3 separate regions of the Homo sapiens genome follow, and regions 2 and 3 are each linked to region 1. Evidence: fine-mapped expression QTL. A gene starts in region 1. Each other region holds a variant in brackets. All regions are shown on one strand. Distances are from middle to middle.

Region 1 (10,141 bases):
TTTATAATAGCTAAAACCTGAAAACAAAGCAAGTGAGTGAGAAAAGGACTTAGGGATACTGGTAATATTTTATTTCTTGATTTGGGTGCTGGTTACACATGTGTGCTCAGTTTGTGAAAATTCCCTAAGCTGTGTTCTTTCCTAAATTATACTTTAATAAAAGTGAAGCGACCAGAAATTTATTAATTTTTTACTACCTGGCAGCATAATGATTATTAGGTTGTTTTCAAAATTAAAAAATTCTCACACATTATAAAAATGGTCACATGATTTTACTTGTGTAATCATTTCAGCATCTGTCCTCTGTGGATAAAACATAAAACACACCATAATACAATGAAACCCCTAGGATAATATCAGGTTCTTTTTAAACCCTAACTCTCACTTGATTTTTGGTTAATCTTCAACAGGTTGCTTCAATAAATAATTTTTGTTTTCTGTTTCAAATCAATTAAAATTAGTAGCATTTTGAGAATTTTAAGGCACTCTTTGGAATAATGCTTTTGTCATTACTGTAAACTCATTCACTCTCCTAGACTTAAGTATCTTTTCTGATAGACATAGGTCTTTGGGCCAGGGCCAGGTCATGATAAAATAGAAAGCTTTAATCTCCATAACCTTTTCAGAGGTAAAGTTATAGGTGCTTTTATTTCATTTTAGAGAGAAAACAAATGTTTGTTCATGGTCTTATAAGAATCAATCAAATAATTGACAAACAATTAAATATTCATATACAGGCCACCATGCTAGATATGGAGACTATATAAAGATATAGTATGTCATTTCTCCTCTTGGAAGATTTATAGTCTACCTGAAGACATAAATACACGTACCCATTAGCTAATGACATGTTCATGTGTTAATAGAAAATAAATGATAAATATAATAAAAGTAAAAAGAAAAGGGAAAATAGCAGAGCTCTAAAATTGTGTCTCAAGGGAAGAGTTCTTGGCAGTCAGGGAAGGCTTCCTGGAGGCAGCATGATGTAGAAAAGCAATTATTTTTCAGTTAAGCAAATTTGGTTTTAAGTCTGAGTTCTTTTACTTCTCAGATATAAGCAGATACTTAACTTCTCAAGGCCTTAAGGTTTTCATCTGAGAATTACAGCTGATGCCAGTAATTTCTCTCATAGATTTGTGAGCTTAGAATGAGATAATTTAATAAGAAAGCATGTTCTTCTAGCCTCCATTGCTGACCTTTCATATGGATGAATAAATAACCACTGAGAATCTTTTGTGTCTGACACTGAGCCTCGGAGCAGGGAGCAGTAGGGAGTTGGGAAGCATGCTAAGCATCAGAGCAAGGAAGGAGAAGGACATAAGGGCCTCTAAGATGCACAATAACAAATGTTGGCAAAAGTACAAAACAGTATGATGAAAGCAAGATAGGACGGTGTCTGGGAAACCTGGGATAATAAATACAGACAAGGAAGTTTCCTTCAAGGCTGGCAAAACAGTAATGTGCTGGTTACAGGGAGGAAATGAGAAATATAGGAGGTATCATCCCTGAATATTTACCTTTTAAGTAGAAATACAACAACTGAACCCATATTTACTTATATACCTGAAATAATGAGGAAAAGTGATGGCATTTATTAGCTTATGTAGTGCAGTGTTTGCCTATCAGTCGCATAAAAATTTGGAGGAGGGAAAGCTCACTGTGGTCTGTAGCATCAGGAAAGGTTTGAATTTAGGTCTTGAAGAATGGACAAGACATGGATCCAAAAGGAGGTTTATTCTAGGCAGATGTTGCACCAGGCAGTCCCTGTTACTTAAACGTGTAAAAGGGGAAAAAAAATCACTGGATTTGGTTGTGGGGTACTACCTGAGAGGTTATGGAGAAGTAAGGAGAGAGGTCTCTCAGATGGGAACTGCAGGTTTCAGGTTGTGATGCAAAATCAGTGTGCTCCTCTCCAAGAAAGAATGAAGGACAAAGAGGCCTAGTTATCTGATCTCTGATCCTAAGGGCACATTTTCAAAGGGGGCAGCAAAGAGAAGAGAAAACCACTGAGAACAATGGTTTTCAGAAACCTATGGCTCCCTCCCACTCCCCCGCACCCATGAAAAGGTGTGGGGGAGGGGGAGGGAGCCACAGGTTTCTGCAGCAAGATCACACTCAAGAATTAAAATCCCTTTTCAACTTATCTCAATGCCCCACATCCCCTGAAAGCACCTAGCTTGCTTGGGTGGGTACTAAGGAGTAAAGAGCATGGGTTCACTTCTGAAAGATCTGGATTGAAGCCCTTGCCTGTTTTTATCTCGCACCCTTTTCTGAACCAATTTCCTCAACGGGGCCATAGGCTCAATAATGATAGTAGCCTCCTCAGAGATGTTGAGAAGATTAAGTAAAAATCTATGTAAGGACTCCAGCACGTAAGCTTCCGTATAACTAATAATAATCACTATTATATTTTATAATGGCGTTTGGGTCCTGGGTCTTGCCAAGTTTGGGGTGGGGGGGAGTGAAGAAGGAAGGTCGGCTTCTTTATTGTGTTGGTGTCTCTCAAAACAGCCGGCAGGCCACGGGCCAAAACCACAGCGGGGTGCTCCCTCCGCCGGCGCCTTCTTTCCCCTGCTCCACCCACGCTTTCCAGAGCAACAAGTTCCTTTCCGCAAGACCCGCCCGCGCGCCACCGGCGGACCCAGAGCCTCTTCCCAGACCTCTGTCAAACTCGTCGCCAGACCCTTCTGGGGTCGAAATTCCGGTACTGCCTACGCCCTTAGGAGGAGGGAGAGGCCCCCACACCTGGAGGAGCCCTGGCGGTGGCTGGGAGAGAGGCGGGAGGCTTGGGAAGTCAGGACAGAAGAGACTAATAAGAGCTTCGGTCTGCGCGGCCCTTCAAGGCAAAACCAATAACCAAAAGCACCCACCGCTCATCTCACTCCTCTCTCTTCCTGGGATCAGGAGCGAGATGGAGCCTAAAATCTCAGGGACCTCCACCCAGCCCTCTGGTAGCCACATCTCTGTCCTTTGGGTTCCCCTCGCCCCACCTTCTCTCTGCACCCACACTCCACCCCAGCCTGCGCCAGGTCCCCTAAGGACACTGGAGAACCCTGATACATCTTTTGCAGGAGAGACACGCAGGTCAGCCACAGCCCCCACCCAGCGCCCTTCTCTCTGTCCTCCCAGGATGAGTACCCTGGAGTCTCCAAAGGAGATCCAAGGTGTCCAAAGCTGGGAGGCTCACCTATCTGCTCAAACTGTCGAACTCTGGCAACTTCTTGGAATGGGGATCCCCACGCTCTAGTGGGAAAGCCAGGCTGGCCGCCCACGCATCAGGAGAGGACACCTCGACTTCTCCGTAGGGAATCCCCCTCAAAATCCACCTCTCCAGCTCCTGTAGCCGGGAGTTGAGAACTAGGGAGCCAACCAGAAGTGCGCTCCAGGGGTGGGCGGTCGTGGGCGGGGGTGAGGGCGCAGAAGTTCCGCCCCGATTTTAGAGACCAGTTTCTTTCCAAATCTAGAGTCAGGAAGCCGTTGTTCCCGGAGAGGAGCAGGGACCGAAGTCCCTGGGAGGGAAGTCCTCCCGGCGCGGGGTGGGAGAAACACCGAGGTGAATTGCAGTGTCCAAACGTCCAGCCTCGTCTGTAGGAAACTATTCTTTCTCCGGGGGATGGGGGTGGGGGAGACTTCCCTGGCCAAGTAGCCAACGCCAGGCTTAGCTGTTCAGGGCTTCATCCCTCCATCCCCAGGCAGCCTCGAGAACTTGGTACCTCGGACAGCATCCCCGGAGCATGGCATCCTGTGAAAGGTGTTATCCTATTTTCGCCATCAAGTCAAAGAGCAGTAAATTATTTTGATGACCTTACTAGTACAGATGAAGGACATTTTAATTACATAACCGGTGAAAGATCACCGGAGGCAATATCGTGTTAAAGAGCCCATGGCAGAATATCTGCATCGCATGAGAAAGAGAGAAAACTTGCAAATCTGCAATGAGATTGCGCAGGGCTGCCCCCCCGTCCCCCCGTTTTGAAACAACATGCGAAATGCATGGGAGAGCTTACCTTTCGGACTCCAAAGCCGTGTTCTGCTGCAACTTGGCGAGCTTTGTCCTCTCCCCCTTTATGCAACTCCACAAGAAAATGATTCGTGAAGACCGGTCGCTCAGCAGATGCAAAAACCATGACACAGAAGAGGAACCCGGCGGCCGCCTTCCACTGGGAGACACAACCACCCTTCATCCTTCTTTGGGAGTGAAAAGTGGTGCTAGGAGGCGCGCAGGCTGGCGGAGCAGGGGACTCGGAGGGAGGGTGCAAATAAAGAATTCTTATATATAGTTTTTAAAAAAATCTTTGTATAGAGAAAGAGACTGAACAGGGTCTTGGAAAGCAGCGAATCAGTGTGTGTTCTCCAGCATCTGGCTGGAGGGGAAGCCGTGCAGTCAGGCGGCCCGGCGCGCGGGCAGGGGTGCGAATGTGGGGAGCTGTGTGTACCGGAGAGAAAGAGCGAGTGTAGGTCTGTGCTTGATGCTAAATCTGCATTTTCAGCTCCTCCTCAGCTCCAATTCCCTAGGGGCTGGGGGAGAGCACCAGCTCGGGTGACGTGAGTCCGCCAGCGGCCAATGAGGGCGGGGGAAGCGGCGGGCCCCGCCCTGGGCCGCCCCGGGCCCGCCCCCGCCCACCCCCGGCCCGGCCCGGCCCGGCCGCCTCCGCCTTCTGGGGGCGCAGCGCAGCGCAGCGCAGCGCAGCGAGCCCGCGCCCCCGCCCCTTTCAGCACCGGAGAGCTCCCCCATCTCAGCCTGGCCCGCCGCGCGCCCAGGAAAATCCCCCCAGCTGTAATCAGGCCAGCGGCGGCGGAGTGATGTCATTGTTTGTGGGAATCTGTAGGCTCTGGGAAGGGAATTACGGTGTGTGCCGCTCTCAGAGGCCCCGAGGGGAGCAGGGGCGCCGGCCTCTGTGCCTCTTCCTGCTTGTTTCCCGCTGCAAAAACACCTCTCTCTCTCTCTCTCTCTCTTTCTCTCTCTCTCAAACACACACACACACACCCAAGGCATACTTGCCTCCCCTTATCCGAATAACAAAGCAAATATTAACCCTCCTCCCACCACTTTGGGCAAATCCCCGGGGAGGTTTGCTCTCCTTGGCACCAGGAGGGTTGGGGAAAGCACCTTCTAGGGGTGATCCATGGGGGGCGAGAGTGCAAGGACGAGCCCTTGTTTTTTGTAGGCTCCAGGCAGGTCCGGAGCGAAGCGGCTGGGAAGCCCAGCAGGAGACCCGGCTCGCCCCACCCGCGATGGTGACTGGAGGAGGCTCCTCTAGGAGTCCTGGCTGCACCTCCAAGATCTGCCTTCAGGAGAGACGCGGCCGGGGTGGACACGGCGGGAGGTGCATTCTCAGACCTGGGGACGTTCCACTGCACAAGGACAGCGAGGGTGCTAGTTGGGGAACGCATAGCCACCGATCCCAGGCGCCGGGCCAAGTCGCCCGCTGAACGTCTTCTACTGGAGGCGAATTCGGGCGCAGCGACGGGGGGCAGGGGCAACTAAGTTATCCGGTTAAGAAACGTGCACTCGCACTGGACTCTGCTAACTGCTGACGACGGACTCCGCTTCTTGCCTGAGAGGGAGGAAGCACGAACGTTCTGTATGTAACGAAATGAGGACGACTGTTTCAAAGCTACTCAAATATTGTTGTGTTAAAGAGTATTTACACTGATCTCATTGTATCATTTAGCTTCAAAGCTCAAAATTCTGCTTTACTTAGATAAGAGGTAAGAGATCTTTTCTTAGGGGCTTAAGTGCATGCAATTCAGAGAGAGAGGAAGAGACTATTTATACCATCGACACGTTACACACACATTCTCATGTATACACATATTCCTCTCTTTTTATTTTAGCTTGAAGTCCAAATCTACACAAGTCAGAACCTATGCAAGAAAAGCACCATCGGTAGAAATGAATACACTTTGAATGCCATGGACCACCCTGTCTTCAGAGCATGTCTGTTTGCTGACATAGTTGGCTCCCTCATAGCCCTTTAAAAAATTGTCACGTAAAAATGTGGGCGTTGCTGAAGGTTTTTATTAAAACATTAGAAGTCTATGTGACATTATTTATTATTGTTATTTGAATTCCTCTAAGAAAATTAAGCTATCTGTTAGGACTTAGGGCCATGGTGGAGGCAAGGTTTCTGGAAAAGTATTAACACGGTGAAAGTATTAATAAAGGGAAACAGATCAACTCTGGGCCCCTCAGCTCACTACTGCTCAGAGGCTCATTTCTGCCTTTGTTCCCCCTTTCTATTACTCTATTGTTTAACAGCTTACCCCCTCATAGTCCATCCGTTTGATTATAACACAAGGTTTTCATGTTTCACCGTGTTAGTCAGTATGGTCTCTATCTCCTGACCTTGTGATCCACCCGCCTTGGCCTCCCAAAGTGCTGGGATTACAGGCGTGAGCCACTGCGCCTGGCCACTTCATTTCTTAAATAGTTTCCAAATATGAAATGCTGGTAAATGTTGAATCTCATATAGCTACATTTTAAATAACTAAAACTGTGTAAAATTGGCCAGAAATGATATAAAACCTGAATGACTAATTAAAATAAGTCCTCTTTAGTGGTTTACATAAAATACAGCTCATCATAATATTGTCAGGACAGAATAGCAAATGGAAAGATAATTTTTTTGGTTATTCAAATACTAAATTTTCAATACACAACAATGTAGTAAGCAAGTGGAAGAGGAAATGTATTTATCCCTTGGATATCTATTGATACATTGTTATTTGAAATGCTAATACACACCCATGTGTGCACACAAATTGCTCTTTTAGACAACTATTTCTCAAACTCCTTTTTCCAATAACAATAGTCAAGGTGGACAGTAGAGAGAATGGCAGCAGCACATTTTGAGGATAGACCTAGAAGCCTGTTGCCAGGGACCCTATTGCAGGCTCTGCTAGTACTAGGTATGTATACCACTTGGCTGTGGGCCAACATATTGCACCTCTCAAAGTCTCTATCTTTCTATCTGTGAAAAGAGACTGTTGGATTAGATACCTCAGAGCCAAAGTCTATAATTTCAAAAGAGTTGTGAAAACATACGCTGTAATGTAGGAAGCATCATCAATAGTTTGAGAAATGCTGAGGACCACAATACTATTTAATAACATATTGTGGCCAACAGGCATACTTATTTTTGTGTAACCTCCCCCAAATGGTCTCATATTTATCAGTTTTGTGTACTTGAAAAAATAATAACTGACACAAACAGATTGACAGCACGAGATATAAAAATCACCAATACCTGGAGCTTCTTTTCATTTATTTACTTTTGTATCTGTAACAATGACGTCGGGTGTTTGGTTCTGGCTCAGATGTGCCACAGGCCCCCAGAGTCTCTTTGAAGATGTTGTCCTGCAAAACAAGACTAGAACTCTCCCATTTTATGGCTTAATACTAGAAATCAAGAGACCTTGGGTGATTTTTTAAAAAACCAAAACCACCTGAGGCATGATTGGGATACTCACATTTAGATGTACTTCTAAAAGGAGAACTTTGGATTCATAGAGCATCATGCCAAGGAAAACCTACCACTGGGGGTACAGAGCAAGCCAGAAGCAGCCGTAGGAGAGTCCCCCAAACCTTTGAATATTCTTTGGACTACTGGAGAAAGATCTAATTTTTCTGTTGATTTCTCTTCAATTGTGTGGGATGTGTAATCTGGAGAGAAATAGGGTATATACCACTGAAAATCACAATTTAAAATACAGCCTTGTTAAAAATCAGGTTGGGCTTTGCCATTTTTGCTGCATTCATTGCAAACATTTTAAATGCAGTAATGGTACATTAATCAGGTAGGAACAATTCTCTACTGTCATATTGTACTGTTGTATTAGTTTGTTTTCACATTGCTGATAAAGACATACGTGAGACTGGGCAATTTACAACAGAAAGAGGTTTATTGGACTTACAGTTCCGCATGGTTAGGTAGGCTTCACAATCATGGCAGAAAGCAAGGAGCATCAAGTCAGGTCTTACATGGATGGCAGCAGGCAAAAAAAGAGAGCTTGTGCAGGAAAACTCCCCCTTATAATAACCATCAGATCTCATGAGACGTATTCATTATCACGAGAACAGTATGGGGAAACTGCCCTCATGATTCAATTACCTCCCACTTGGTCCCTCCTACAACATGTGGGAATTATGGGAGTACAATTCAAGATGAGATTTGGGTGGGGACACAGAGCCAAACCATATTGACTGTCAACCCTTTCAATGGATTATTCCTAAAGACCCTGCCCTGTCTGTTCCCTCCATTCCAGCCCATATGCAGGCTTTCTGAAATATCGTTACCACTTTACAGATCTTTGCCCAATTTTGAACTCAGCATTGATCAAGTCTTTTTTTTTCCACCAGACTATTCTTATTTTCCAAGAACTCACCTCATTTTCCTCTAGTATTTACATATACTCTCACATTTGCTATAACTAAAAATTCAGATACTTGGGAAATTTTAGTTTCTCAGTATGCACCCACTTCTAAATCACTGTGATTCAGTTGGTCCTACCTCCAATTCCTATAGCTTTCACCAACTTGTATCTTTTCCTTAAATAACCTATCTCTGTTTTTCCTTCAGTTGAAAATTCTCAGCTGATTTTTATTATTTAAGCCATCTTAAATTAATATAGTGAAGAGAATTTATATGGCTTCAAGTGTTTATTATTATCAAAGTATTGAATCTACAGTGCTTTGGGTTATATTCCTTTTGTAATTTCATCAAAGTCATCCAATTTACTCAGACCAATCATCTCTTCACAAACAAAAGCTACTTCTCACTTCCTTATTTTCCAGGACAGTGAAAATTTGCTTCTTTTGCTAATTTAGGTTCTATTATTTTGATAGGATTTGAAGCAGCTAAACAATGAGGACGAGCGGCCCTTTTAATCTTCTTTTGAAAATTAGGAACACATTGCTATTCACTATCTTTAGATTCCTTTTCAGGTCTACGGGACTACAGAATAATGTTTGCTCACTTAGAAAAGTAATTAGTTATTTCTCAGGGTTTATTGGAACATTGCTTATTGTCTGCGGAAAGTGATTATCTATTCATGAATTCTCTACCTTGTGTTATTTCTCTTTCCTTTTTCATGATCTTTTAAAAACCATAGTAAATCTTTCTCAATGTACTTTTTAAATAATTATGGAAATTATCTTCAACAAGGAGTTTTTTTGTGTTTCTCAAACTACTTATAACTCAGAAATAATTCAGAGAGAACAAAGTATATGCCTTGTTAGCAAATATAAACAGGAATTTTAAAAGATAAAAATTTTATGTGTAAAATAAAATTTAATACATTCAAACGTGTACACTAATTTTATAAGGTAAACTCTGCCCATTATAATGAAACATAAGATTCTAGGAAACTACTTACTTTGATCTGAATGCTTTGGATAATTATACACTATTTAGTATCAGTTTGAACGACCTACCCCGAGTAGATAAATTGATGTATAATGTTACTTAACATGCTAGAGGAACAGTTATAAATTTATGGCTGTGCTCTCAGATATTTTCCACTCTTTTGAAAATATTCTATACTTTCATAGATGTTTTGGCAAAACGTGGCATTGTCTATTTTTAGGGAATTTCACTATATGATATTTACTTTATTGTCTTATGATACTGGAGTGAACCAAAAAGTACACCCTTACAAACAGATATTTCTAGAATTAGTCACTCAATCCTAGTTTGTAGATTTATTTTCTCTTTTAAAATCCTACAATCCAGATGTTATAATTAATATAGGACCTAGTTAGATTATTTTAAAGTTCTAATAACACATTCACTATGCATTAATTTCTTTTTAATTTTTCAAAACAGCTTTGTTAAGGTATAGTTAACATATAGTAAACTGTGAAGTTTGACTAGTTTTGCAATTTAACTAGTTTTGATATATGTATGCACCTGTGAAATAATCCCTGCAGTCGGATAATGAATATATCCATTTTCTCCAAAAGATTGCTCATGCCATTTTCCTATGGCTCCCTCCCACACTTCTCCCACCCCTTCACACCACCCATCCTCAGTCTGCCACTGCTTTGCTTTATACCACTATAGATGAGGTTGCATATTTCCTGAATGTTATATAAAGGGAATAACATAATGTGTACTTGTTTTTGGTCTAGATTCTGTCA
Region 2 (10,141 bases), 260 kb before region 1:
TTGCCTGCCAATCCTTGCTGTGTTTCCGGGTCCCCAGCCTTGCTCCAATCACTGTCTTTTTTCTAGGATGGTGTTGGCTGGTTCTTCAGGCCTGAGGGCTACACCACATGTTTTTGACATACTGCTTACTTGTTTTCGCTAGTTAGAGTTGGTTTTCTTTGCTTGTAACCCCAAAGATAACTGCTAAGTAATAAGGTTAGGTATCAACAGATAAGGAGGTTTGGATGAAGTTGGGTTGTCCCCCAAAGCAGACCCGGAGAAAGGTCTTGGGTGCAGGCGGTTTGTTAGGGTGGTGTCGCAGGAAGGATAGTAAGCTCCTGTCTCTTGCTTCAAACCTGCCCCTCTCTACCCAGTGATGCTGGGGCTGGGACTCTGCAGCCAGGTCCTGCTTAGCCAGCTGCTCCCTGGGAGGTGCTGTTAGAGGGGAGCTGGGGGAAGACTGAAAGTCTGGAGGAGGAAGAAGGCACTCGCTGGCTTTTGTTTGCTTTCTGCTCTTGTCCACACCACCCCAGCAATCCTTCTGTGGTCTGAATGTTTATGTCCCTTGCAAATTCATATGTTGAAGGCCTTACCCCAAGGTGAAGGTATTAGGAAGTGGGGCCTTTGGGAGGTGATTAGGTCATAGGGCAGAGCCCTCATGAACCAGATTAGTGCCCTTATGAAAGAGACCTTAGAGACCCCCTCATCCCTTCTAGCATGTGAGTTCGGAGTGAGGAGGTGCCATCTATGAACCAGGAAGTGGGCCTTTGCCAGACGCTGAATTTGCTGGCACCTTGATCTTGGATCCCCCAGCCTCCAGAAGAGTGAGAAATAAATTTGTGTTGTTTATAAGGTACCCAGTCTATGACATTCTGTTACAGCAGCCCAAATGGACTGAGACAGCTTCTTCACCCTGGCAGTGGCAGTTCCTTCCTGTAGCAGCAGCTGAGTCCAGTTCTCCATTTTCCCAGCATTTGCAGGACCAGCCTCATCGCAGTCTCTGCAGAGATACCTGCACTAGCCTGCTGATGCCCCTCCTTGGTCTGGGTCCCAGCACACTCCCACCTCTGAGACTTCCAAGTTGTATTAATTCCAACCTCTCCTCTTAGGTGGTAGCTAGCTGCTTCTTGAAGGTCTGCTGACAAGAAGTGGCCCACTAGGCACTTGTATTCCATAACCAGCGCCATACCACCCGCTGGGCTTCTCCCTAAAGACTGTAAGCGTTGGTTTTACAAGAAAAAATCTGCATGGGTTTCCTTGAGAGAGTGCCAGTGGTCCTGAGGGAAATCTTGGCATGAACCAGCTGCTGGGTGGTTTCTCTAATCTTTTGGCCTCATGCACCTGTACCCAAGTCAGATGACTGATTTGCACATTGGGACCACTACAGACCTCCACCTGAGCTTCCTCTGGCTTCACTCTGCCAGGTCTTAACTCCCCATCTTTCAGGTCCTAACACGTGCACTTGTGCTCCACTTCCGGGCACTGTGGGTGGGTAAGGCAGGCTGGGGTGCCACGGATGCCTTAGGATCCTGCCCGAGCCAGGAGGGCATCTTCATTGCGTGAGCCCCCCACTCCCACAAATGTTGGACTTTTTGGTCCATGTGATTCTTGTGTTTTCTTTTGCTTTTTGAATTAACTAGGTAACAATTCATTATACTAATTGTATGGTACTTTGTATTAAATTCTCTCTGTTAAAACCACTGGTATGGTTTCTGTCTCCTGACTGGAGAAAGAGGAGGCATGAGATGGGGAATGGATGTGTCCACGCAGGGGGCATTAATGAGGTGGCCACCACTGTGAGCAGCTGGGGCTCCATCCCACTGGGGACCCTTCAAGAGAGCGGGTGGAACATCTTCAAATTGTCCCAAGCAGGAGGTGAGGAAGCTGAGCTATCCGTCTACCAGCTCTCCATCCCATTTCTCCTCAGGAGAGGGTGGCCCTAGGGCACTGATGCCCTATCACCTGTGGCCTGCTCCACACGAGGTCTGGGGCTTTTCTGCAGCTGGGCAGAGTGATAGAATGGCCTTTGGCATGCATGGAAACTGCCTACAGATAACCTTTAGGTGGGCCAAGGAGATATAGGGCAGAGGTTGGCAAACCTTTTCTGTAAAGGGCCAGATTGTAGGCCACACAGCCTCTGCTGTAACTACTCAGCTCTCTTGTGGTAGCATGAAATCAGCCATAGACAATACAACAACAAACAAGCACAGTTGTCTCCAACAAAACTGTATTTATAAAAGCAGACCGCGTACTGGGTTTGGCTATAGTTTGCAGACTCCCTGATACAGAGGATGCACCAACAGTCTGCCGCAAAATTCAGTTAACATCTCAGAAGACACTTCTAAACCTGGCATTGGAACCTGTCTCTTCCTTCCACCTTCATGTTGGGAAATTCCATTTAGTTCTCTCCTCGACTTGAAGCTTACATTATAAGAAAGATCTGGCCGGGCATGGTGGCTTACTCCTGTAGTCCCAGCACTTTGGGAGGCTGAAGCAGGTGGATCATCTGAGGTCAGGAGTTCGACACCAGCCTGGCCAACATGGTGAAACCCCATCTCTACTAAAAATATTTTAAAAATTAGCCAGGCATGGTCACACACGCCTGTAATACCAGGGGAGGTCGAGGCAGGAGAGTCGCTTGAACCTGGGAGGCGGAGGTTGCAGTGAGCCTGAGATCATGCCACTACACTCCAGCCTGGGCAACAGAACAAGACTTTGTCTCAAAAACAAACAAACAAACGAACAAACAAAACCTAAATGAAAAAAAACCCCGAAAAACAAACAAACAAAATCTTCAAGCAGCCATTACTATCAAGTTTATCCTAAAATTTTTCTAACATAGATTTGTGGTTAGGACACTGCTGGTGAATGAAGTCACCCCAAAACTCACATGGCATTTGGCACATTGATGATTGGTATCTTGATTGGTACAATACCTGACTCCATTTTCTCAGGCATGGATAAAAGCAAGCAAACAACATAAAAAGCCACACTGACTTATGTTGTATTCAAACAGAGTTTTTGAGTTGAAACTTATTTTATCAGAAGATACACTCCTGGTCAATGACTCCACTGGGCTGATGCCCTCACCAGCTGTACCTGCCCCTTTACCCTCATGCTTGCATCCTTGTGACCAGGAGCTTGCCTGTCACCTGTGGCCCATCAGTGGTCCTGGGACATGGTGCCAGAAAAGAAAAAGATAAATTTTAGCTTCTTCCCTCCATCTAGTTTGAGTAGCTCATGGGATATCCTCTCAGATTCAGAGGGACATCTTTGAGGGTGTTGTGAGGTGGCACACCCCATCTTGGGATGGGGAGCTGGCACACCCCATCTTGGGATGGGGAGGGCAGGTTGGCCCAAAGCCTCCTGGTTGGAAATCAGTAACAGTGACGTTAGGCCTAAGGAATTACCAGCCTCATGTGGCTCTTCTGGCACCTGAAACTCTGTGAGCTGAGATTTCTAGTTGCCTTCCCATCCCATCCCACCGCAAATCATGCATGAATGAGCATTAAACATTTAGCCACACAGAATCTTCATCTTTTTAGGCTGAGTGCATCCCTCACCTGAGATCATTCTATTCCCAGGTTCACAAACGTGAGTCTCTTCTCAGTTCTAAGAGAAACATGGAGCCAGGACCTTGGCTTGGAGAATTTACCCTAGGTTCTCAGACTTTGATTCCAGGTCCCTTATACATCTTAAACCAAATTTGATCAGGGTTTTTTGAAGCCAAGGAAAGGGTTCAACTAAATGCACAAGAGACTAATGGAAAAACTCAAGTACTAGCTGATTAGTTTACAATTCAAAGAGAGGGTGTTGTTTTCTGCAGATCTAGCTGCTTGGATCGTTTATACCGGTGTTAATGTTCTTGGGAAGCTGCATAAGGCATGAGGAGGCTGTGGGTGAGCATGCAATGGGACCATTGGCAAGTGGTGGTGTTTTAATGCACTCTCTCTGGGGGTGGCTTTGCCAATGTATTGGCCTGTATCCCTCGATAGACTTCAGCTCTTCAGAGACTGGAATTCTCCCTTATGTCAGGCTTCATGTTTCCCTACCCTGAATGCTGCCAGACACTGTCTTCCAGCTTTGGTCACCCTGACTCTCATTTATTCTAAGCTCCCATGTGCTGAGTGCCCTCCATCCTCCCACCCTTTCTCTTGACTTATTCTTTAGAGACAAAGAACCACCCTGCTGGCCACAACTGAACCACCTACATTAGCCTAGGAGACATTCTGTCTCTGGCATTTCACAATTCCAGAGTTTTAAGGATCCCCTAACTCTCTTCCACAACCACTGTCCTTTATCTTTGCATTTTGCTTTTTAGAAATTTCTACCAAATTAGACTATTTGCATCTAAACACTTTAGCTGTGAGATCACCATTTCCCCTAATTCAGCACTTCTTTCTGTTAACTATAAAATACTTATGTGTCCTGAAGGTCTTACACTGTGTGGTTTTCATATAATCACTCCAAGCAAATGCGCTGATCACATGAAAACCATGCATTAACTTATAAGTGATACGAATGAAGACATAGAGTAGTAACTCTATCGGAATTTTTAAAAATCATTTTTTAAACTTAATCTTTTGGAAATCCATCTTTAAACCTAAGTATTAAAAAGGAGTGTCTCAGGATCACAAGATCAAACCTTGGACCTTATATCCGCCAATATCTATTTTTAGTAACAGACTCTGTTTATATTTATTTATTTTTGGGACAGTGTCTTGCTCTTCACCTAGGTTGGAGTGCAGTGGTGTGATCACGGCTCACTGCAGCTTCTACCTCCTGAGCTGAAGCTATCCTCCCACCTCAGCCTCCTGAGTAGCTGATACTACAGGCACATGCCACCATGCCCGGCTAAGATTTTAATAATTGAGTTTAAGTGTTATATCAGAGGACAGAATTATAAATTGTTTTTATAATTAACTTTGGTAAATATAGTATATTAATATTTTATGAATAATTATTAAGGTCTTTTTCTAGAATAGTCTGTGGTCTATGGGGTAAGGTACAGCCAGTTTGTAATAATGTTCATGGTACCATCCATGAAGAGTGATTGCCATGTTAAATC[G/T]GTTCTTAAGAACATGTTTTAAGGGAATGTCAAGCACTCTCTGTAGTGGAGACTCTAATGCTCACCAAATATTCCCTTAGTTGTCACAGATTTCCCAGTTGCTTTGCATTTAGCCAGGGCTATTGCCCAATACTGGCCAGTGGGCAATGGGCAGAAGCGATGCATGTGTCTCCTTCAGGCTAAACATAGAAGAGCAGATGAATGTCCTCCTTGGGTTCTCTTCTGCATGGTGATTGTAGCAGCCTTGTGCTATGATTACAAACCATACGGTGAAACAGCCTGGATCCTGAGTCACTGCATGGAGGTCTGTGGCTTTGGGGAGTCACCTGAACCTTCACTGGAATTTGTGTGGATGATAAATAAACCTTTGTTGTATTAAACCACTGAGATTTTGAGATTGTCTGTTACTATAGCATAACTTAGTCTAGCCTGATTAATATATTTTAGAATAGTGTTTCTAAAAGATTTTTGACCATCACTCACAATGAAAAATGTATTTTACATTGTGATCCAGTACACACACTCAGACACACACACGTGTGCACACACACATCTGAAACAAATATTTCAGGAAACAATACTTATCCTTATTATGCATGATTATTCTATTCTATTCTATTCTATTCTATTCTATTCTATCCTATCCTATCCTGTGATTTTCTTCTCTCCTACTGTATTCTAAATTACTCTATTTTATTAAAAACTGACCTCCTAAATTGATTTTACAACCCACTAATGGATGTAACTAGAGTTTGAAAAATACTGCTGTAGATAATAATTTGTGTATGATTTATATGTTAATTATAAGTCTTTTATGCATACTTAGTAAAGCAGGCTCTTTAGATCTCTCTTTGGCAATTTTTAAATTATCTGTTCCTAGAATGGATGAAAGTATTTTCATGTACAATATAGCACATCTCACATAATTTCTGGAGCATAATGTTTTATTGTTGAGCCTCCTAATTTACAACATGTCTTTTGAAATTTGCTTATAAAATTTTGTCACAGGGAGCAACAATGTTAACCTAATTATTATTCACTTATTTTCATTTTTTAAAATAAATGACTATAAATAACTGTCTCTTCAGTTAGGATCAGGGATATCATAAAAACATCACTAGCGAGACATATTTTAGTATTAATACTGATGCAAAAAATGAAATAGAGACCAAATATTTATATATATAGCACTATATATATTTTTATATATTGTATACTCATATCAAAACTTGCCATTTCTCTTAAGTAGCTGATAAGTTGCTTTCTAATTTTATAAATTACACCACACCTGTGAAAATATGGACAACTATTTTATATTTTTGCTGCTATATAAGACATTTAATGTTTATACAGAGAGCTGAAAAATTACAGAGGTGATGCAATGGGAATTGATGAACATTTTCACCTGAATTTCCACTGGCCTTTTTCAGCCAGAATCATCTTGATATTCTCTGAATATTCTTTTAGAAATGAGTATGGTATCTGTTTCTTCAATAAATACACATACACACATTATAGGTATATGTGTATATACATTTATACAAGTGTATGTATATATACACATATATACACACATGTATATAGTCTACATATGTATATATATTTCTGTGTGCACTTATACACACATGCACACATAATGTCCTTTGGTTTATTTTTAGACCATTAATGTGAAATGAATTTTCGATGATTTCCATTTATTTTTTCTTGAAATCTAAACTGGTTTAAAAAGACCTTTGCAACAAGTAATAAATTTCTTTTAAAAAATCATATTATTACACTTTAAAGCATGATATAGAGAAGGTCACAAGGTGTTAGAGAAGACAGAAATCCATGCCAATATGGGAGAAAAGAAAGCAAATGGGGTTTTCAGATTTCTCTCTTAAAGTGGCCACCTTCAGGGAATTGAACCTAGTGCTCTGTGTTGCTGGCTTGAAGGAAAGGTGCTCCAGGCTAAGCTCTCTGCTCCCACAGGAAGGGAGATGGTGCCTGGAGAGGCTGAAGACAAAGCATTTCTTGGGAATGGATGTGCATTGGGACTGGGGATGAGAAGCAATCTCTGGGTAGGTCACTTTGGTAATGTCTAGTTGGGAATGGAGTGGTGACTTTTGGGATTGACCATAACCTTCGGGTTGCATGTTAAATGGTCTCAGGGACTGCTTAGTTGCCGAGAAGGTGACTGTGTGCTTTCCTCACAGAGGTCTTCTCTCACCTCCTTCAGGCCTCAGGTTCCTCTGGGATGAATTGCATGGCCCTCTCTTGGCAGAAGAGGCTCCATACAACTGGAGAACTATGTGAAGATAGCGCTCGCATCTTCAAACGTGCCCCTTTCACCTCCCATGACTCTTCCGGGACAGAGGCCTTTTTCCCAACACATTAATGACATCAAACTGTGGGGGAGTATGAGATTTCTCTTCCATTATATTACTTGGAAATCAAAGCCCACATCTGTGTGTGTAAAGCTGTAAAAAAAAAAAAATACTCCTGTCGCCTCTCACTCAGATCAGATTGAGACACCTCAAAGTGACTTAGGAAAAGGGACATTCTTGTTTGAAAAGCTAGTAAACTACTCTTCACCAGGTGTGTTGCCAGGCTTGTCTTAATTTTTTTTCTCTTTTGGGTAGCTATGTGAGGAGCCCCAGAAAATTGGGGCTGGGATGAACTCTATACAAACTGAGAAAAATTTGGGCTGCTCTAGCGGATTTTAACATAACTCAGAGCAGCAGCTGGTGAGAGCACAGCCACGCTCTGTAAGTTTTATATTTGCCACGCCGGCTGAGTAGAGTGAATTATCTTGGCATTGGTAGTAAAATATCCAGCACTCATGCTTCCTGGATCTCTTTCCCCATGCAGTAACTAGGGCTCTCTATGAATGGCATCTTTTGAATCACATCACCTTAATCTACATCCCTGGTAAATCTCACTAAATTCAAAACATCGCTCCCCAAAGGATTTATAGCACAGTGTCTCCTGTGCTTTCAGAGATGTGGCGCTCACACCCTGTCCTCAGCTTTGATTTTCTTGTTATGTAACAGCCCCTTGTTTGAGACCATGGACAATTGTTCTTGGAGTCACTCTATGTGGCTTTTAAAATACGTTCTTTTCTCAGAAACAAAAAAAAAAATGAGGGGAAAGCTGTCCCAGTTTTTTTTTTTTTTTTTTTTTCAGGATATCACCCATTTGAATGACAGAAATAAAGAATTTAGAGTCACACATAGGACATGGATGTTGTTGGGAACGCTATATTTGGGGCATAGAGTAAAAAAGATTGTTTCCATTGTAATGAAAATAATCATTGACAGTGAGTGAAGCTTCAGATTAAGAAGACGGAATTGCCTGTACGGGTGATGGAATTGCTAGGTGCCTGCCTGAAACGTGGAGCGAGGACAGAGGCGGAGCTGGGGAGGGAGGGCGGTGGGAAAGGCGGATGTGCAGCGCTAGTTCTTGTTAAGGATGCTTTTCAGGCTTCTCTCCACGGCTTCGTCCAGCTCTTCCTCCAGCTCCTCTTTCTTGGACATGGCCAACTTGGACTGGTAATCCCGCACCACCTGGTCGATGTACGGGGCACTCTGAGTGCCATGCAGCATCAGGGTCCACTCCTTCAGCACCCCCTTCTGCGGGGCGCTGCCGACAAATCCCAGCTCCAGGGTCCAGGTGCCTCGGGCGTCTTCCCCCCACGTGTGAGTGGTCATGAAAGGCCACTTGTCAAAGCCCACCTTGGAGTCGTCATCCCTTGGACGCCGGCTCAGCAAAATGGACTTGGTGCCCATAGGGGAAGTCATGTTGATGTTCAGGTCTCCTCTTCTGGTTGCGTTGACCGTGATGACAGCCTGGACATGCTCCAGGTAGCGGACAAAATTTTCCTTCCCCTCACAGGCGTCGGTTGTGAGTGTCAGCACCAACTTGCCAGTGGATGGTATTTTCCTGAGGGCAGAGTGAAGAGGAGATAGGATAAGCAGTGGTGGGTGCACCTTACAAGGGATTTTGAGGGCAGCTTCAGGTGGCGGAAAGGGCAAGGGCTTTGGGGTTGATCAATCAGACCTGGGTTTAGTTCCCACACTGGCTGTGTGAGCCTGAGTAAGTTACTTATCTCTTTTTTTTTTTTTTTTTTTTTTTTTTGTCTTTTGAGACAGGGTCCCACTCTGTTGCCCGGGCTGGAGTGCAGTGGTGTGATCTCAGCTCACTGCAACCTTCAGCTCCTGGGTTCAAGTGATTCTCATGCCTCAGCCTCCCCAGTAGCCAGGGTTACAGGCATGTGCCACCACGCCTGGCTAATTTTTTGTATTTTTAGTAGAGACGGAGTTTCACCATGTTGGCCAGGCTGGTCTTGAACTCCTGGCCTCAAGTGATCCAGCTGCCTTGGCCTCCCAAAGTGCTGGGATTACAGGTGTGAGCCACCACGCCCGGCTGTGAGCAAGTTACTTACGCTTGGAACCTTCTGTGTGGAAGGAGAATGTAGTAGATGCTGTGATGTCCCTCCTGAGTCTCCTAAGTCCCTTCTGAGTTCACCTGCAGCTGAAGCTCCCTTGCACGTCCACTGCTTCCCACCCCAGGCACGAGAATCTCCCCGTGTTCCCCCTGGGCTTCCTCCCACCTCCGTGGAAGCCTGCACAGCCTGCGTGCAGGGCGGCCCAAAGGTGGCAGGGATTTAACCTTTGAGGGGTAGCTCTCTCCCAGTGACTGACAGGTTTTTACCCCGGTTTCTCTATTCCTCAGCGTGACAACTCAGTGTCCCTAGTGGGACTGAGCTCAGCTGCCCACGGTGGCAACTCGCTCATTAATGCACTCTTCATTGGCTTTTCTCCCCTTCCTTATTTTACATCTCCAATTCCTCACTTGTGTTACCTGGGATCATTTCTCAAAAAACTGTCAGCACCCAAGTCTTGTCTCAGGTTGGACTTCTGGGACAACCCAGACTGAGGCAGGAACTCATAATGTCTTTCTTTCAAAGTGCTAAGTGCTTTGATAAATAGAAGCTGTTGCTAATATGACTGCCATTACTACCATTAAGAAAAGCTGGGCCGGGCGCAGTGGCTCACGCCTGTAATCCCAGCACTTTGGGAGGCCGAGGCGGGCGGATCATGAGGTCAGGAGATC
Region 3 (10,141 bases), 94 kb before region 1:
GTGGGGGATCTGACATGTTTGTGGTCTCAGGAAATCTTCCACGAGGAAGGCTGACCTGAATTCTGCAGCCAAGAGGAGTTTGACTGGGCAGAAGAGGGGAGCCTTCTATGCACACTGTGTGGCAAGGAGAAGCATGGTGGCCTCGCGACACTGCACAAAGCCTGGTAGGGCTGGACTTCAGGATGAGGAGGGGGCTGTGAGGCAGTAGGGGGTCTGTCTTCTGGCAACCCAGTATTTGAGCACCCTGATTATTTGGGACATCCCCATTTCCTTCTGCAGATGCTGAAGTAGGGGAAGAGACCTTTCTCCATGCACTGTGGGAGCATGCTTTTTAAGCATATCAAGCCCACAGCTCCTTCTCAGGCTGTAAGTCTTTCGGGAGGGCCAGGAGGGTACATACTGGTTAGAGAGTTCCATGGGGGCTACTGATAGCTGAACATTCAGCAGTAGGGGGAGTATCTGGGTTGTGGAATCTGGCAGCAGGAAGAGGGTGATCAGGACCAAGGTGGGCTAGGGTCTGCAGGAGTGTCCTAAGTCGATGGTTCTTATGGTAGGGCCTTGGTTACTCGTCTCTAAATCAGCCTGGTTCCCATCTTGCTAATCTGATTCTGTGAGAGATGCCCTTGTAATAAATTCATTTTCTGCATTAGTTACCCAGATTCTACTTCTGTTGTTAAACCTAAGAACCCTGATAAGAATAGGTAGGTAGGTGCCAGATCATGCCAGCTCTTCCAGGTCATGTTAAAGAAAGTGGCCTCTTGCTTAAGAAACCTAGAGATCCATACAGAGGTGTTGGAGATGGGAGGTGACTGTCAGATTGGAGCCAGTGGTTATAGCCTGGTATCATTTGAGCTTCTCCAGAAGACCCCAAGACAAAGACTTGAGTATAGTTTATCTAGGAGGCAATCCCAAAAAGCAACAATGGGGAGAAAAGGCAGCCAATACAAGGTATGTTATCAGGCTTGTTACTACTGTCCACAACTAGGTGTCAATCCCATTGGGGAATTCTGGGAATAGTACAGAAAACATGTCTCAGAGTCATCCCACGTGAGGGAGGAGGGAACTGGGGTATTTGTCCACCAACTCCCATCAATCATTGGTTGAGGGCTTCTCTGGTGGGGAGCATTCACTACTCAGAACTTCCAATCTGCCCTGAACCAGGGCCAAGTGGGAACTGCCTAAGATGAAGAGTTGCAGGTATTGGCAGTTGGAAATCACAGAATCTCTGCTCCCAGAAATGGTCAGGCCTGAGGACAGTGGGTGGGACACAAGAGTGTCAGCTCACCTGGATAAAACACTGGCTGGCTTTTATATCTTATAAACAAAAATGCTGTCCTAGGCTGGAGGCTGTAGAAAAGAAACAGCAATGAGTGCCCTGTGCTGCCCATGGAAAACTGAGCAATTGAAGAAACATATAACAAAGCTTTAGTTACTTTCTATTTAGTCCCTATTTATAATTTGTTTCTGCTTCAGAGGAAAGTTTAAAATATGCAGAACTTGGTTTTGTAGTTCAGTAGACTGAAGTTAGAACCCTGGCTCCACATTAATAGCTTTGTAATCTTGGGTATGTTACTTAATCTCCTGTTTCTGGAAGTACCAAAAAGATGACTGTGAACCGATTATATTAGTTTGCTAGGGCTGTGAGAACAGGTGGCTATAAATAACAGAAATTTATTTGCCCACAGTTCTGGAGGCTGGAAGTCCGAGATCAAGGTGTTGGCATGTTTTGTTTCCTCTGAGGCACCTCTCCTTGGCTTGCAGATGGCTGTCTTCTCCCTGTGTTTCCTCACATGGTCATCCCTCTGTGTGCGTCTGTGTCCTAATCTCCTCTTCTTATAAGGACACTATTTGCTATGGTCTGAATGTCCCTCAGAATTCATGTGTTGTAACTTACTTCCCATTATGGTGGTATTAAGAAGTGGGGCCTTGGCTGGGTGCGGTGACTCACGCCTGTAATCCCAGCATTTTGGAAGGCTGAGGTGGGCGGATCACCTAAGGTTAGGAGTTTGACACCAGCCTGGCCAACATAGTGAAACCCCATCTCTACTAATAATACAAAAATTAGCCAGGCGTGGTGGCATGCACCTGTAATCCCAGCTACTCTGGGAGAGTGAGGCAGGAGAATCACTTGAACCCAGGAGGTGGAGATTGTAGTAAGCCGAGATCACGCCATTGGACTCCAGCCTGGGTGACAGAGTGAACTCCATCTCAAGAAAAACAAAACAAAACAAAACAAAAAAGAACTGGGGCCTTTTGGAAAGTGATTAAGTCATGAAGGTGCCACTTCCATGAATAAATTAATGCCCTTATAAAAGAAGCATCAGAGAGAGTTCACCTTTCTTGTCCTTCCATCACTTCTACCATGTGAGGACACAGTGTTCCTTCCCTGTGGTAGATGCAGCAACAAGGTGCCATCTTGGAAGGAGAGACTGGGCTCCTGACAGACCCCATAACTGCTGGCCTTGGCCTTGATCTTAGACCTACCAGCCTCCAGAACTGTGAGAAATAAATTTCTGTTCTTCATAAATTATTCAGTCAATGGCATTTTGTTATAGCAGCACAAATGAACTAAGACATAAGTCATATTGGATTAGGGCTCAACCATATGACATTGTTTAACCTTAATTACCCCCTTGAAGGCCTATCTCCAAATACAGTCTCATTCTGAGGAAGGGGGGTTGGGCCTTCAACCTATGAATTTTAGAGGGGCACAGTTTATCCCATAACACCAATGAAACAGCTTACTTATCAAGATTGATGACTTACTCATCAATACTCCTTTCAAGACCCTTACCTCCATATGCTTACCAACCCAAAGAAACTTTTCATAAACTTTTCCAGTCCCAACAAGTGCCCTGCCTTGCAAGACCAACTTCGAAATCACCCAGCTCAGGCCCTAAAACCATTCTCCATTAAGACAATGTTCTCTCTTATTGCAGGAAGTGTGATAAGCTTTGCTTGATCAACAGGTTTCTTTTGTGGGCTTTGAAGAGTAGATAAGATTGAATAAAATGATCAATGAGTACTCTGTTATAGTACTTGGCATTTAGAGGTGTTTAACCAGTGTTAGTTTTCTTCCCTAACATTGGTTAAACACCTCTAAATGCCAGGTACTGTAGCAGAGAGGTACATCACAAGAGAGATTTTCAAAGCATGAACGATAATTTTTATTTTTCTTCCTTTGTTATGCCCAATTGACAAAACCATCTCACTTCAAAATCCTTCTGTCTCTCTGTTTTGTCTGAATAAATCTATGCCTGATACAAGTCAGCAGTTTCTAGATTATTTTCAACTCTTTTTAATAGTTCTTGGAATGTCGGAATCAATTAGAGGTTAGTCAAAGGTTTTTTCATGTGTAATACAATTCTGCTGAAGATGGCAGTTGGTGGGAATCTTGCAGACTCTAGCAGTTGAGAGTGAATTATGGAATCAACTACTGTTATGTAAATTACAAGAAAATAGAGGATAATTTGTTTCTCCCTGTAGGATCAGAGCATGATGCTCTTCACATTGAAAGAAGTACTTATCATTACCTGATTTTGTTAGAGCTTTATATGCCTGTCTTTCCCCAAAATGGAAAGCTATTAGAAAGAAAGGATTATTAGCTCTATACTTGCTATGTAATCCAAGACAGAGTCTACACACAGTAAAACTTCAACATAAATTGATTAAGTAGAATTGAATTTAATCCTCAGCAGTGAGGAGAGTATTGGAGAGTGGGGAAGAAGGAGGACAACATTTGTGTGCCTTTCATGGATGGGCTGCTTACATACTTCTGTCACTGCAATCCTATGTGGTCAGAATTGCTATTGTCTTTTAACAGATAAGGAAACTGAAGTTGAGGGAGGATAACTTGGCCAAGGTCACAGTTTTGAGAGACGACAGGGACAGAATGAAATCCAGATCTAACTAATATTGCTTCCTAATGGAAAGCAAGGAAAAAATCTTTGCTTTCCTGTTGAGTAACTTGGGTGAATAATGTTGAAAACAAATACTTTATTTAAGGCAGCTGAGACATTATTGGTTGGCATAACAACAACAACATAACCCAACCAGTCAACAGAAGGGGGAAAAGGCAGAAATAACCGACAGGGCTGTTTGATGCCTAACATTTTGCTTGTTTTACTAATGTGTTGCTTTTCATGTGCTTGCCTTGGTTTTAGTCACAACCATTATACATTTAAGCTAGTCCTGACTTTCTAGTTAGTACTCCGGCGATGGTTAAGGCAGAAGGACTCTAGCCTTTCCCATATTCCTTCTGCATTCTCCTGTACAAGCTTGAAGCTGCTTTTAGAAACCCCAAAATACTGTCTCTGCCTGAAGGCTTTTCTCTGACTCACTAGCTGTGTGCCTAAGGAAGAGTGATGTGCTGGAGAACTAATCCTCCCCGAGCACCCTCCAGCGGTCTCTGACAGGGAGTTTGTGGATAAACACCCAACTTTCTTCCCATTGGGTGGATGACTGAGTCATGTTCTCCACAGTTTCCCAGAGGTGCTCAGCAAGCCTGAGTCCCAGTTGCCCACACTGGTAATTTCCTTGAAAACACACACTTTATGGTGTTTCTTCCCTTTCCTGTCTCACTTCCTCACTTTCACATTGGTGCTGCCTGAGGAACTTGACCTGGGTACAGAACACTTTTAGATCAAGTGGGCTGGCTAGGGAGGGGAGACATGAGAATTCAGCTCTTCTCTGCTGCAGTGGATAACTGCAGTTATGAAAAGAAGACACTGATTCCAGGAGGATGTGTCTTGCGACCAAGGGAACGAGTCTCCCTAAGGTGCACTGTAGGAGGAGGAATTCAGGTTTCAGAGTATGTCCTATGAGTTCTATATGATTTCTGGGAACAACATGGATGAGAGCTAAGTGTCTCCTGGGCATACACCTTTTGCAGTAGGACAGTTCTCCCTGGAAAGGCAGTTCATGTGCACATTGAAGTTTGAGAAGTACTGCCTTATGAATCTGAAAATAATATAAGAAAAACATAACACCTTGAGCTTCAGTTGGTTTTCCCTCATTACATCTGCTTGTTTACCTGCCCACCTGAGCTCTGTCTTTTCTTTCTGAAAATATTTTCTAGACTCTTTAGTCCTGATAGATTTTCCCCTTATAAATAAATTTTCCTATCCTAAAAATTAAGTGAAACTACTATATCAGTGATTCCAGATGCTTGCCAATACCTTCATAATTAATGTAGTATTGAGTTAGTCATGTGACTTTGGGCCCAAAAAAGTCACCTTTCTGAATTTAAGTTGTCCAAAGAAGGATTTGAAGATAGCTGAGATCCATTTTGGCACATGCTTACATGATTCAAAGTCCCTAGAGTTTTGGTCTGGTGATACGGATAAAAGCATTTTCAAGGATACGTCTGTGGTAGGTTGTTGCAGTAACGTCCTTGATTTATACCCCCCTCCCAGTGTTCACCCCCTTGTGATTTCCTGCCCATACTGGCCCTAGACCTGGCCAAGTGACTTGCTTTTGCCAGTGGAATATAGTAAACATGCTATAAGCAGATGCTTGAAAAATGTTTCTGCACTGGGGCTTGTTCTGTCTTGCTGCATCTTGGAACACTGTTGACCACCAGCATGTGAACAATCTTGGGCTACTCTGTTGGAGATATACAGGGCCCAATCCCTTGCACCTCCCAGACAGCAGCCAGCATTAAAACCAGAAATGTGAGTGAGGCCGTTCAAGACCAATCGGCTCCTACTGACACCATCAGCTGATTGCCTCTGCGTGAGGAACCCCAGGCAAGACAAGCAGAAGATC[C/T]GCCTAGCGGAACTCATCCTAAATGCCTGACCCAGATTATAGTGAACTAATAAATACTTTTTGTGGTAATCTATTATGTCTTAATGGTTTGTTACATAGCCAAAGCTAACTTATTGCAACTTTTTTGTCTTTATCTTATCGGGGCGTAGCTTGGTAACTATTTAAAATGGGGAATTATAGGAGCCCAGGTATAAAAAAAAAGTCATTTTAATAATCAGAAATTAGTTACAATTTACAATTAATTATTTAATGGCTCACTAATGATTAATTCTTGGTTGATTACATCCTATCTGATGAAAAAATATGTTTTTCTCACAAAGCATGATCTGTCTTCAAACACTGGCTCAGAAATGAGCATTACACATAACAAGATGGGGCTTTTCTTCTCTGTCTTATTCCCCCATTTCTGATTGCAGCTGAATTGAATAATCCTGCTCTGGCTGTTCTGATTGTGTGTGTACTCTTCCCATGGGCTTCTTGTCTAAAGTGGCAGATGTATTTCTCTCTATCTCCCTGAAGAAATGACAATAGAAGTAAATTGTGGCCCTGTAGCTTATTCAAAGCTGCTGAAAGCAGAAGCAGGCTTCAGAGAAACCTAGCAGAACTTTGACATTCATAGGCGTCCCTGGCAGATGGTGATTGTTGGGTGGAATGCCCCGTGGAGATGAAAGAACACCAGCCACAAGTGGTTTTGGACCATATTGTTTGGAAAATGACAAACATACTTATTGTTTCCTGACTTAAGTCAAAATAAAACAGACCAAAACAACTCCCACGCTGCAATCACAGACACTTGACATTACCCAACTCATATACAATGCAGAATGCATTTTGCCTTTGAAACAGGGGCTGGTAATGTTGTTTTTCATCTATATGAAATGATGAAAAACATCATTTTTTTTTGGATATAGGACTTGGGCAAATGAAAAACGTGATGACAACTCGACTTCAATACATTTTGGATCTTAAATGTCCATTCATCAGGAGCCGGTAACATGCTTCATCTCTCACAGAGGGCAGGCATAAAGCCCCTGCAGAACCTCTAAACAGTGCATAAAAGACTAGAACACAAGTTCAAGGACTGGAGTTTTCTTTGACCACTTTATAGATGGAAATTGAGCTGGAAGTGTTCTGTCTTTGGTTTTCTTTGGCATTCAGAACTATGTTCCAAATAGGAGCTCACTGTAAGCAAGTAAATCAGAATATAACCTGCATGGCAGATCTTAGAACACATCCAGTCGTGCAACTAAGTAGCATCCAAAGCCCAGGATGAATGCTGGAGATGACTGACACATCAAAACAAATTTGAATGACACATACATTTTAAGAGACTGTCTGTAAAATAGAATCAGGCAAACCTTTTTTCTATTCTGATTTATTCTCTTCATCTCTGCTGCAGGCAACCCTCAAGCTATTTGGTTATTATTAATCTTTCCAGCCATTCCATAATTGTCCTTCCTGCGTCTACATCTTTTTTTAAAAAATTATTTTCTTTGTTATTTTCCAACCTTTCATGTGTTGTTTATGTGTTCCCTTTTGAAAAAAGAAACTCTTCCCATGTCTCTTTTATTTTGGGGGTAGTATTTTATTATTATTTCTATTTTCTGTTACTTCTTATTTCTACTCTTTCAAAAACTGTCTGGCAATTGAATGTGCACATGAATAAAGAGGAACTGGAATGAAAATGTCCAAAAAGGATGCTGGAGGGATTGGGGGAGTTGTATTGAGGTGGAGAGGAACAGATGGCAGCTGTTAGTAAAAGAAAAACACGTCTAATAAATGAAGATTTAGTTGCCCATTTTTCAAATCCAAGTTTGTCAAGAGGGACACTAATGGACACAGCCAGAATTGGCGGCAGCACAGTGGGAAATGGCAGGAAATTATGCCCACTCCAGTGAGAAAAGGAAAGAAAAGATGGGTCAACTGGGTCTGGAAGGAGCTTTGGATAATTCAAATGAATATAGGACTATGAATATCTTTGTGAATTTGCAGAATTCACAAAGATGTTCCAAGGAATAAAGTTTAATAGGGGGAAAATTATGTATCAGTAATTCACATTTCTCTCCCTCATGCCCACCACTTTATACTGGGGGACAGCTGAGTCAACTCTCAAGTTCTTCTTTATTAGGGAGAGTTTGGGAACTGAGAGAGAATTAATGCATATAGAGAGGCTAAGTTGATTTACCTAACTAAGAGCTAGCAGGAGCATCTGTTGGGAGAGAAGAAAAGACTGAGTCAGAATGTTTGGGAAGCTGGGAGATGTCAGGGCAAAAAGAGAGAATGTGGCACTCTCAAAAAGCTGAGAAAACAAGGAAGGAAAGAAAAGTGGACTTTAGAACATGTTCCCATTAGCATTCTCTGAGAGAGAAAATACTAGCATTAATTTTTGATGACTTTTGGCTGCTGAACCAGATTTTTTTAAAGCCTGCACTTCATAGGGCCTGAGAATTACTTATGTCACGGGAAATCTCCTGGTGCATTCAACTCTTATAATGCCACAGGAAATCTCCTGGTGCATTCAACTCTTATAATCTGTCTGCCACATCACAATATTACATTTCACAACTACAACATCACACATCACAGTATCAGAAACATGGGGCTGGTGGAGAAAGGAGGCATTATTAGCTTAATGATCAAGCACAAATTGATGCTGCGTTATTATTCTAACTTTTTATAGGACTGTGTATCTCCTGTAAGATTCCATCCTGAATCCTGGAAAAGGATTCTGGGTTGCCAGCACTCTAGATTCACTTAGAATCAGACTCTGACACTGGGATTTGAGAGCAAGTAGTTTATTTGGAGATGGTCCAGAAAGCTCTGGTAGAGAAAGGGAGACAGGGAAGGGAAGGAAACAAGTAGAGGCTGTGTTTTCAAGCTTGTTATCTGAAGAAAATTATACAAGTGCTTGCTTACATGATATTTCACCTCTATGTGCCCAGAGCCTGATACATATATTCATACATACACAGACATATAATTTTAAAGCATTTGCATGACTTAGATAACAGACGGCACCCTTGGTGTTTTTCACTTATATCAGCCAACCCTGGGTCAGTGACAATGGAGAAGGAAACGAGAAAAGAAACGTGCGAGGGTAGCAAAAAGAGAGGCATGTCCTGTGAGTCGGTAGTTAATATTTACTGAGCAGGCACAACTTGCCCACACCAGGTGCCCAGTGCCTTCTATGCCTGAGCAACCCTATGCGGTCAGGACGACTGAGATCCATCTGACCTATGAAGAACGAGCCTTAAAGAGGGTAAGGCTTAGGAGTGGAACCCAGGCGGCCTGACTGGAGAGGCAGAGTTAATCTCTGTGGCGCACTCGCTCCCAGCAGGAATGATCGCGTTGTCAACAGAGATGCCAGCAAGGCCGGACAGTTAATTTTTAACCCTGGGGAGTGGACGCAGCTAGAGCCCCTTGCTCCTGTGCCTGCTTGGCGGGTGTGTCCGCGCGGGCCATGGATTCACACTGGCTTCACACCGGCCGGGGGTGAAGCACCGGGACAGAATGACAGCCACGGGCCAGGACGCCGCAGCCCTGCAGGAGACCGTGTCGGCGATTCACATTCACCCAGCGCCAGACTCACCCCCAAGCCAGGCTTCTCTTTTTCTCACTTAATCACTGCCTAGAGAACAGGAGCCTGTTGTGTGCGAAAGGATGGGCGCGCCCCTGGCTGCAGGCACCTACTCATTCTCTGCCCCGTTTGGGGCAGAGGGAGCTGTGTGGGCCCCTCAGCTCCGCCCCTGCCCGTGGAGGGCGTGGAGGGCACCAGAAAGGCGCCGGGAGTCGCAGGTCCGACAGAGACCCGGGAGCTGGGCGCTGTGCACCGGGACGCTTTCCGCGCAGGAGGGAGGCCCCCTCTGGAGGGCCAGAGAGTGATCGGCCACCCACGGGTTCCCTTATAGCGCAGAAAAGCATCCAGGGTCAACCAAGCTCACGGGTCACCTCTATAAATAAGTGTGCAAATCTTTGGTTGTGCAGTTCTGAAAAATCTAATTCCTTTTTTTTTTTCCTCCTCTTTATTCAACTCTCTGGCCAACCCCTCCCACCACATCCCCAACCAACACACTCAGGAAGACACACACCATCACCACCACCACACCACACTGAGAGAGTCAGGCAGTTATGATAAATTTGTGCTGGGCATCAGAGCGGGAATTAGTCCTGGGAGGGACTCCAGAAGTCCCAGGCCCTGGTTCCTCGGTGTTGGGCTGGAGGAATCCGCAGAGAAAGCCGCAGGGTTTTCTCGGGGAGACTTCGATAGAGTGGGCTAAGTGCTTATGGCCCTGGCTTATTTCAGGAAGGAATTGAAAAGCCTTTTTCAGCATTTAATATCCAGTGTTGTAGGGAAGTCCTTCATTATGTCTATCCT

Direction of the effects. Positions count from the first base shown, and alleles are read on the strand shown. Sizes are in standard deviations (SD) of each study's normalised expression.
As copies of G replace T in region 2, the expression in prefrontal cortex of the gene that starts at base 4,450 in region 1 goes down (small effect, 0.25 SD a copy in ROSMAP).
For the expression in testis of the gene that starts at base 4,450 in region 1, allele T in region 3 goes with a higher level than allele C (moderate effect, 0.49 SD a copy in GTEx).

Evidence for each region. PIP is the estimated chance that this variant, and not a neighbour inherited with it, causes the effect. A credible set is the group of variants that fine-mapping cannot tell apart.
Region 2: its variant is the best candidate, but not a certain one, in a credible set for the expression of PCSK2 in prefrontal cortex (ROSMAP, PIP 0.63).
Region 3: its variant is the best candidate, but not a certain one, in a credible set for the expression of PCSK2 in testis (GTEx, PIP 0.72).

The regions. Positions count from the first base shown.
Region 1 is chr20:17,221,349-17,231,489 of GRCh38, reverse strand. PCSK2 (proprotein convertase subtilisin/kexin type 2) reads right to left here and starts at 4,450. Exons shown (of 12, transcript NM_002594.5): 1 at 4,008-4,450. The coding sequence starts at 4,184.
Region 2 is chr20:17,480,411-17,490,551 of GRCh38, reverse strand. PCSK2 (proprotein convertase subtilisin/kexin type 2) reads right to left here. Exons shown (of 12, transcript NM_002594.5): 12 at 5,974-8,968. The coding sequence ends at 8,482. Among named protein-coding and RNA genes, the nearest start is that of BFSP1, 46 kb to the left of the region's middle. The variant G/T (reference allele first, on the strand shown) is at 5,048.
Region 3 is chr20:17,314,952-17,325,092 of GRCh38, reverse strand. All of the region lies in intron 2 of PCSK2 (proprotein convertase subtilisin/kexin type 2), which reads right to left. The region is part of intron 2 of LOC105372546 (a long non-coding RNA gene); the gene reads left to right. Among named protein-coding and RNA genes, the nearest start is that of PCSK2, 93 kb to the right of the region's middle. The variant C/T (reference allele first, on the strand shown) is at 5,767.